Linked DNA regions of Homo sapiens. The protein of the gene in region 1 interacts with the protein of each later gene in a pairwise test. Each region holds a gene or a part of one and is shown in the gene's direction. Other genes may lie near its edges.

What was found. The genes of interacting proteins can lie anywhere in the genome.
Region 2: the proteins of ISY1 (region 1) and DHX8 interact in binary tests that used the Homo sapiens proteins (3 or more experiments, as listed by UniProt).

Annotation. Positions count from the first base shown.
Region 1 is NC_000003.12:129,139,315-129,144,926, reverse strand, and holds part of ISY1 (pre-mRNA-splicing factor ISY1 homolog), read left to right. Parts: intron 1-4,441; coding exon 4,442-4,559; intron 4,560-5,612. Other genes in the region: ISY1-RAB43 protein, read left to right, coding at 4,442-4,559. UniProt on the Homo sapiens protein: Component of the spliceosome C complex required for the selective processing of microRNAs during embryonic stem cell differentiation. Required for the biogenesis of all miRNAs from the pri-miR-17-92 primary transcript except miR-92a.
Region 2 is NC_000017.11:43,490,475-43,494,359, forward strand, and holds part of DHX8 (ATP-dependent RNA helicase DHX8), read left to right. Parts: intron 1-690; coding exon 691-776; intron 777-1,708; coding exon 1,709-1,818; exon of another isoform or gene 1,819-1,900; intron 1,901-2,187; exon of another isoform or gene 2,188-2,206; coding exon 2,207-2,566; intron 2,567-2,970; coding exon 2,971-3,115; intron 3,116-3,208; coding exon 3,209-3,412; intron 3,413-3,885.

The DNA of each region.
Region 1 (5,612 bases):
AAAAAAGATAAAATGAGCATGGTTCCTCACATTCTTTAAGTGCCTTAGGAACTGGAGACAGCTATTTGTTGGCTTTGTTATCTGAGAGCCATAGAGACACTACATTCTGTCCTTTTTTTGGACTTCTATAAATGCAATACTCTAGAACCATAGCTTTCAAACTTTTAAGAACATGGCTCATTGTAAAACACACACAGACACACACACACACAATCACAAGCCAGCACACAAAGGTGCTGAAAAAAACAATAAGTATGGTATATTTTTTATTCTGTTCTATTTTGGTTTTTAAAAATTTGATGTTTGTGACCTGCTTAACTGATTTCATGATGCACTAATGGGTCTTGGTTTTGAAAACTCCTGCCCCAGAGCCTAATTCGTTCACACTTTTGTGATGAGACCTACCTCAGATCACTGGAAACAGTATGTAATCAATGGACTATAATGTGTTATATAAGAAACACATGCAGTTTTTCTACGTGTTGATCTTTTCACCTTGTGAAAGTCTAACACATAACCATAATTCTTACCCTAGTACATACAAATGGAGTATTCAGCCTTCCCACTGCAGAAGAGGAAAGGCACTCCCATTTCTGAAGCACCTTTTGTGTCTGGGCACTGCACTAGGAGACTTCTCTTGGGTGTCTTGCCTAACTTCTTTTTTTCTTTTCATTTATTTTATTTTTGCTGTTTTTTATTTTTATATGCCAATCTTCTCTGTATCATTCCGATTTTAGTATATGTCCTGCCAGAGTGAGCCCTTGCCTGATCTCTTCAGCAGTTGTGTGGTGGAGATTTTATTTTTCCTGTGAGGCAGCTTAAAAGCAGCTCATTAATCCACCTAGAAAAGTGGTCTCAGGTATGAAAAAATTCGTATGTGAAATGTTAAGTTCCACCACCCAAATTCAACACTATTAATATTTTTATATATTTTTTCCAGAGATTTTTAATGCTTAATAATTTTATTTTTATTTTCTACATATAAAAGTAATATATTACCACTAAGTTCAGAAAAGTACAAAGAAGCAGAACAACACTCAGTCACAATCCCATTACATAAGTGCAGCCACTTGAATATGCTCTTTATCTTTTTTCTCCTTCCGTTGTTTTTGTATGAATGTCATAATTGAAACCATACTCACTGTATGTACAATTTTGGTTCTGGATTTTGTTTTTCTTTTCAAAATGGTAGCTTTCATTATATAAACAGTACATATTTTTGTGCAGAGAAAAAATATAAATATAAAAATTATAAGATATAAAAAATACATATTAGTATATACATTATAGAAATTCATTAATATTCTATGTGCTTTATTCTCTAAACTGTACAAGGAATACAGTTTCGTGTCAATAAATAATCATATGATAGATATGTATATTGTTTTATTTTATTCTAGTTTAGTTTTTTTTTTTTTTTTGAGACAGAGTCTCGCTTCATCACCCAGGCTGGAGTGCAGTGGTGCGATCTTGGCTCACTGCAACCTCTGCCTCCTGGGTTCAAGCAATTCTTGTGCCCCAGCCTCCAGAGCAGCTGAGATTATAGGTGTGCGCCACCACACCTGGCTAATTTTTATATTTTAGTAGAGTTGGGGTTTGACCATGTTGGCCAGGCTGGTCTCGAACTCCTGACCTCTGGTGATCTGTCCGCCTTGGTCTCCCAAACTGCTGGAATTACAGATGTGAGCCACTGCACCCAGCCTCTTAGTTTTTGTGACAAGATTTTACTCTGTCACCCCAGGCTGGAGTGCAGTGGCACGATCATGGCTCACTGCAGCCTTGACTCCAGGTGCAAGTAATCCTTTTACCTCAGCCTCCTGAGCAGCTGAGATGACAGGTGTGTGCCACCATGCTCAGCTAATTTTTGTTTTTGCGACGGAGTCTCGCTCTGTCACCCAGGCTGGAGTGCAGGAGTGTGATTTCGACTCACTGCAACCTCCCCCTCCTGGGTTCAAGCGATTCTCATGCCTCAGCCTCCAGAGTAGCTGGGATTACAGGTGCCCACCACCACGCCCAGCTAATTTTTGTATTTTTAGTAGAGACAGGGTTTCACCATGTTGGCCAGGCTGGTCTCGAACTCCCTACCTCAGGTGATCCACCTGCCTTGGCTCCCCAAAGTGCTGGGATTATAGGTGTGAGCTACCGTGCCTGGCCATGCCCAGCTAATTTTTAAATTTTTTGTAGAAATGGTGTCCCATTATGTTGCCCAGGCTGGTCTTGAGCTCCTGGAGTCAATCAGTCATCCTGCCTCAGCCTCCCAAAGTACTGGGATTACAGGCATGAGCCGCTGTGCTCAGCCAAATTGTATGATTTAAAAAAATGTTTTTTAACTCAAAGAGCATTGCAAAAATATACAGAGAACTTTTATATACCCTTTATACAGATTTACCAGTATTTAACATTTTGCTTGTATTTGCTTTATTTTCTTTGTGTACCTTGAGATTTATTTTTTGTGAACCACTTGAAAGGTAGGTTACAATACATCATGCTTCTTTACCCTTTAATATATGTGTATTTCCTAAGAAGAATATTCTCTTATGTAACCATGGTAGAGCTATCAAGTTTAAGAAATTTAACTTGGCTACAATAATTGAATCCATGTGGCATTTCATCAGTTTTCCCAATAATGTCCTTGGTAGCATTTCCCCTGCAGTACAGGACCTGATCTGGGGTCACATACTACATGTAGTTGTCAAATCGTCTTTTTTTTTTTTTTTTTCGAGACAGAGTCTCGCTCTGTCGTCCAGGCTGGAGTGCAGTGGCGTGCGATCTCAGCTCACCCTAACCTCCGCCTCCCAGGTTCAAGTGATTCTTGTGCTCCAGCCTCCCAAGTAGCTGGAATTACAGATGTGCACCACCGTACCCTGCTAATTTTTGTATTTTTAGTAGAGATGGGATTTTACCATGTTGGCCAGGCTGGTCTTGAACTCCTGACCTCAGGTGATCTTCCCGCCTTGGTCTCACAAAGTGCTGGGATTACAGATGTGAGCCACCGCACCCAGCAAATCATCAGTTTTAATAGATATAGTTGTATCTTCTGGATATATTTCATTTGTTTTCCACTAATTGTCATATAGGTTGTTTGTAATCTTTTTAAAGGTTTTGTCACTTAGCATCGTGTTTTTTATCTTTATTTATTTATTTATTTTTTAATTATTTTATTTTATTTTTTTGAGACGGAGTCTTGCTCTGTCACCCAGGCTGGAGTGCAGTGGTGTGATATCAGCTCACTGCAAGCTCCGCCTCCCAGGTTCATGCCGTTCTCCTGCCTTAGCCTCCTGAGTAGCTGGGACTACAGGCGCCCACCACCATGCCTAGCTAATTTTTTGTATTTATAGTAGAGACGGGGTTTCACCATGTTAGCCAGGATGGTCTCGGTCTCCTGACCTCGTGATCCGCCCACCTCGGCCTCCCAAAGTGCTGAGATTACAGGCGTGAGCCACTGCGCCCGGCCTAGTTTTATTTATTTTTTTTGAGACAGGGTCTTGCTCTGTCACCCAGGCTGGAATGCAGTGGCACGATAGGTGTGTGTCACCATGCCTGGCTGATTTTTGCATTTTTTTGTAGAGACAGGGTTTTGCCATGTTGCCCATGCTGGTCGTGAACTCCTGGCCTCAAGTGATCTTCCCACCTTGGTGTCCCAGAGTGCTGGGATTACAGGTGTGAGCCACCGTGCCCAGCCCATAAGTGTTTTTTATTTATTTATTTATTTATTTATTTATTTATTTATTTAATTTACTCCAGCCCTGGCTGGAGTACAGTGGCACGATCTTGGCTCGCTGCAATCTCCACCTCCCAGGTTCAAGCAATTCTTCCTGCCCCAGTCTCCTGAGTAGCTGGGATTACAGGCATGTCTCACCACACCCAGCTAATTTTTGTATATTTAGTAGAGACAGGGTTTTGCCATGTTGCCCAGGCTGGTCTTGAACTCCTAAGCTGAAGTGATCGCCTACCTTGGCCTCCCAAAGTGCTAGGATTACAGGTGTGAGCCACTGCATCCAGCTATTATCTTAAAATATATTTGCAAACATGGAAATAGTGGGTTTAAAGATCAGATCTGCCAGGCGCAGTGGCTCACGCCTGTAATCCCAGCACTTTGGGAGGCCGAGGTGGGTGGATCATGAGGTCAGGAGTTCAAGACCATCCTGACCAACATGGTGAAACCCCGTCTCTACTAAAAATACAAAAATTAGCCAGGCGTGGTGGCACGCACCTGTAATCCCAGCTACTCAGGAGGCTGAGGCAGGAGAATCACTTGAACCCAGGAGGTGGAGGTTGCAGTGAGATTGTGCTACTGCACTCCAGCCTGGGCAACAGAGCGAGACTCCACCTCAAATAAATAAATGGGCAACAGAGCGAGACTCCGCCTCAAATAAATAAATAAATAATAACTAACTAACTAACTAACAGATCCATTTTCTCTTTTTTTCTTCCCAATAAGAAAGTTGGCCCTAAAATGCTGGATCATGAAGGAAAAGAAGTCCCAGGAAACCGAGGTTACAAGTACTTTGGAGCAGCAAAAGATTTGCCTGGTGTTAGAGAGCTGTTTGAAAAAGAACGTAAGTAAGTTTGTGACAGTTTTAGCCTTTCATTGGTAATAATCATAAGAGTAGATATGCTATATGCTAACTGCTCTTACTTTTTTTTCTTAGTTGCATAACAGCCTTATAGTGTAGGAATTATTGTTCCCAGATTTTAACTGAGAATTCTTAAGAACTGGGATAGAATCATAGGCCCATGCCATACAATTGGGGCTGGAAAGTGTGCCCAGGATTGGCTGGTGCAGGATTCTGCCTTTGGCAGGTGCTAATCTGTCAGTCTGGACAAGGAGTTTCCCTATTTGAAGTTTCCCAGAACGATTGGGGCAGGCTCTGAAGTTCATTGAATCAGGTCATGTTTCAGTTACTTATTAGTTGAACAAATGATAACCAAAGAACAAATACAATCTTGGGCCAAACCCTAAATGTAAAAATGGAGAAAAGTGAGGCCCAGCACTGTGGCTCATGCCTGTAATCCCAGCACTTTGGGAGGCTGAGGTGGGCGGATCACCTGAGGTAGGGAGTTAGAGACCAGCTTGACCAACATGGAGAAACCCCGTCTCCACTAAACATACAAAATTAGCTGGGCATGGTGGTGCATGCCTGTACTCCCAGCTACTCAGGAGACTGAGACAGGAGAATTGCTTGAATCTGAGGGGTGGAGGTTGCGGTGAGCCGAGATCGTGCCATTGCACTCCAGCCTGGACAGCAAGAGCGAAACTCCATCTCAAAAAAAAAAAAGGAGAAAAGTGGAGCTACTTTTGTGTGAATCCAAATAGGGCACACCCACCTTTCCTCCTTCTTTCAGCCAAACCTCCTGAATATAATTTGAAACTGTTAGTCTGGAGTTTTAGTCGGTTTTGATTTTGTGTTTTAGAAAGGTAGTCAACACTTCATAGGAAAAAGTATGAGAGGCAGAGAAGAATGATGCCAGTATTTTCACCATTATTAGCATTTTGTTATATCTCCTTCTAGTTGGCTTTTCTATTTTAAAAAAAATATAGTTCTATTTTTATTAAATGCTGCTTATTTTAAAATTCATTATTCCACAGCTAGTTTTGCATAGGCCACTAC
Region 2 (3,885 bases), on another chromosome or scaffold:
TTCCAGCTGAGCTTAGCTTCTAGAATGGTGTAGGTTTTGAACATCCTGTAAATTGCATTTGTTTTCCTCTCAGCAGTTGCTGAGCAAGTAAATGTTCCAGTAAGATTTTTCAAATGGGCTGGGCCTAGCGGCTCACTGCTGGAATCCCAGCACTTTGGGAGGCCAAGGTGGGAGTATCACTTGAGCCCAGGAGTTTTAGACCAGCCTGGGCAACATAGAGAGACCTCATCTCTACAAAAAAATAAAAAAATTAGCCAGGCATGATGGCGTGCCTCCGTAGTTCCAGCTACTTGGGAGGCTAAGGAAGGAGTGTTGCTTGAGTCCAAAAGGGTGAAGCTGCAGTGAGCCATAGTTGCACCAATGTACTTTAGCCTGAGTGACAGAGGTTTTTTTCCCCGTTTCAAGGGGAAAAAAAATTTCAAACGACTTAAGACAAAATAAAAAAGATAAGACATAACCCAATGAGTATTGCTACACTCCTCTTTCTGCTACATTTCGAGATAGTTTGTGATCAATGTATTTAGAAAATTAAATTACATTTATAGTAACAGGTATGATTAATATATAGCAAAATGCCATGTTCTGTTTCAGTTTGATACAAATCTATTGTTGAAGTTATTTTGTTAATCATTAATAATATTAAATATATATCTCTTTTTTTAACCCCTTCATGCTCTTTAATGAAACAAGATCCAGTTGTTAAACCTAAAACAGAAAAAGAAAAGCTGAAGGAACTCTTCCCAGTCCTTTGCCAACCGGACAACCCTTCTGTTCGGGTACTGATACCATTTTAAGAGTGTCTACTATAAATATATATTCTCAACCCCTTTTCTTTGTCTCATAGTAATTTTATTAATTTTAAGTTTGCCTTTGTTGTAACTTATTTTTAAGAATGAAAGTGTTTGATCACTCCCTGAGCATGTACTATGTATTGAATTTGTTAAGGGGTTCTGAGAATGATATTCAAGGGAAATGAGATTGGGAATTTGGGGAAGTAGTGATTAGGAATATGAAATAAGGTTCTGGAACAGATGCCTAAGGTGTGAAATTAGATTTTTTTTTTTTGCTCTGTTACTTGTTAAAGGTCTAATTTTTAAAGCATTTTGATTTTTAAATTTCATTTTAATAAATATTTATTGAGTACTTACTGTATGCCAAACACTGTTCTAAGTACCTGGATAACAGCAGTGAACAGAACAGACAAGAGTTTCAGCCTTTGGAGATTATATCCTAATTTTGGGGTAGGGAGCAGGAAATAAACATGTAAACATTCTGGTGGGGAGGAGATAGGCAATAAACAAACAAATAGGTATGTAACATAGCAGATAGCAATAAGGGCTATTTAAAAAAATAAAGCTGGAGTGGGGGTAGGGAGGAAGAGTGCAGAGGGAGAGTTGCTTTTTAAAATTTTTAACACCTGTTTTCTATTAATATAATCATCACTTGCATTCTTTCATGGCAGGGATGATTAATATCTAACTGCCTTTCATAGAATTCTATTAAGGACAGAGGGGATTTGTCAAATGTAGCAGTAATTCTCAAGAGCCTTTTTTCCATTTCTTCTGCATCTATCCTGAATCAAGTTTGAAATCTCTGCCCCTCTTCTATTTCCCTCACATAGTGATTAGTGATTTATAGATGTACCTGAGGTACATACAGATTCTTGAGTAGTTTTTTTTCCTAACTTTGCCGGCCTCTACCTCTGCAGACCATGTTGGATGAAGATGATGTGAAAGTTGCTGTGGATGTCCTGAAAGAACTGGAAGCTTTAATGCCCAGCGCAGCAGGCCAGGAGAAGCAAAGAGATGCTGAACACCGGTTTGTCCTTAGTGTCCTGTCCTTTGGAAGTTTAGGGTACTGTGACAGTTGAATATTATGGACCAGCCAAGCAAAATTTTGGGCAAGTTTACAGAATCTGGACTGGTCATATATCATATTGTTGGATCTGTTTTCATTGCTTCCTGCTAAGTGTATGTAGCAAATGCTAGGTTGTTCAGAATATAGAAGTCAGGGTTGAAAGAGGCTGAATATGTTTGTGGCTCAATTCTTTATTGGCTTATAGGGATGTCGTAGTTATTGAAACTCTAATTCAGTTCAAAACCTAGTGGGTACCTACCATGTGCATGGCACTGTACTGGGTGCTTGGGGATGCGAAGATGAAATCGGATTGGTTTCTTTTTTAAACAGGTGCTTATTGATTTGTTAGGGACAGGACAAAGAAGAAGAAGCGGAGTCGAAGCCGAGATCGAAACCGAGATCGAGACAGAGATAGGGAACGAAACCGAGATAGAGACCACAAGCGGAGACACCGATCCCGCTCTCGATCACGTTCCAGGACCCGGGAGAGGAATAAAGTGAAGTCTAGATATCGGTCCAGGAGCAGGAGTCAGAGTCCCCCCAAAGACCGGAAGGACCGGGACAAATATGGAGAGCGGAATCTGGATAGATGGCGGGATAAGCATGTGGACCGCCCTCCTCCAGAAGAGCCCACCATTGGTGACATTTATAATGGCAAAGTTACCAGCATCATGCAGTTTGGTTGCTTTGTGCAGCTGGAAGGACTAAGGTAATGACTGGTGCTCTTTTGTTCACACCAGTGATGGGCAGAATTTCTTTTATCACTGAGGATGTTCACATTCTAAAAAGTTACTTTGATTAATGACACTTTAGTCAAATCAGCCATACATGGTTCTTAGAAATTGACTCTTTTGAAATGTTACAGAGCCATTTATTCCTTTCTCTGTCTTCAGGAGATCTGTCCTTTGCTTGTTGGGACAGATAGAATTTGCTTCCCCACCCCATGTCTCCCCATGAGGAGAGTGTTAATACTATTTTATTGTTTGACCACCTTCATGGTACTTTTCTCTTGAGTTTAAGACCATTTTCTTTTGTTAGTTCCAGTAAGGGTAGAAATTGGTTGGGGGAAAAATATTTTTTGGCATGTTCCAGATGTGTCTGGCTCTCCCTCAGGAAGCGGTGGGAAGGCCTGGTGCACATCTCTGAGCTCCGGCGGGAGGGTCGTGTGGCCAATGTAGCTGATGTCGTGAGCAAAGGCCAGAGGGTCAAAGTCAAAGTGCTGTCCTTCACTGGGACCAAGACCAGCCTGAGCATGAAGGTAGGTGAGATGGTCAGCCTGTTCTTACATGTGATGGCCAAGGGAATGGAAGAGGACAGCAAGTGAGACAGCTCCCTTGTTTTTGTGCCTTAGGATGTGGATCAAGAGACTGGAGAAGATCTAAACCCAAATAGACGGCGAAATCTTGTCGGGGAGACCAATGAGGAGACCTCAATGCGGAATCCTGATAGACCCACTCACTTGTCCCTTGTCAGTGCTCCTGAAGTAGAGGACGACTCACTGGAACGCAAGCGCCTCACCCGAATCTCTGACCCAGAGAAGTGGGAGATCAAACAGGTTGGGGCCTTTAGTTTTCATGACCAGATAGTCATTCAGCATGTAGCATGGTGCTTAGGGGTGTGCCCTGGAGCACGATGGCCTGGGATAACTTTTGGCCACTGTATTAGTCTGTTTTCACACTCCTGATAAAGACGTACCTGAGACTGGGCAATTTACTAAAGAAAGAGGTTTATTGGACTTAGAATTCCACTTGGTTGGGGAGGCCTCACAATTATGGAGGAAGGTGAAAGGCATATCTCACATGGCAGTAGACAAGAGAGCTTGTGCAGGGAAATGCCCTTTTTAAAACCATCAGATCTCATGAGACTTACTCACTATCGTGACAACAGCGTGGGAAAGAGCTGCCTCCATGATTCAGTTACCGTCCACTGGGTCCCTCCCACACACGTGGAAATTCAAGATGAGATTTGGGTGGGGACACAGCCAAACCATATCAGCCACTTATTAGCCGTGTAATCCTTAGCTAAGCT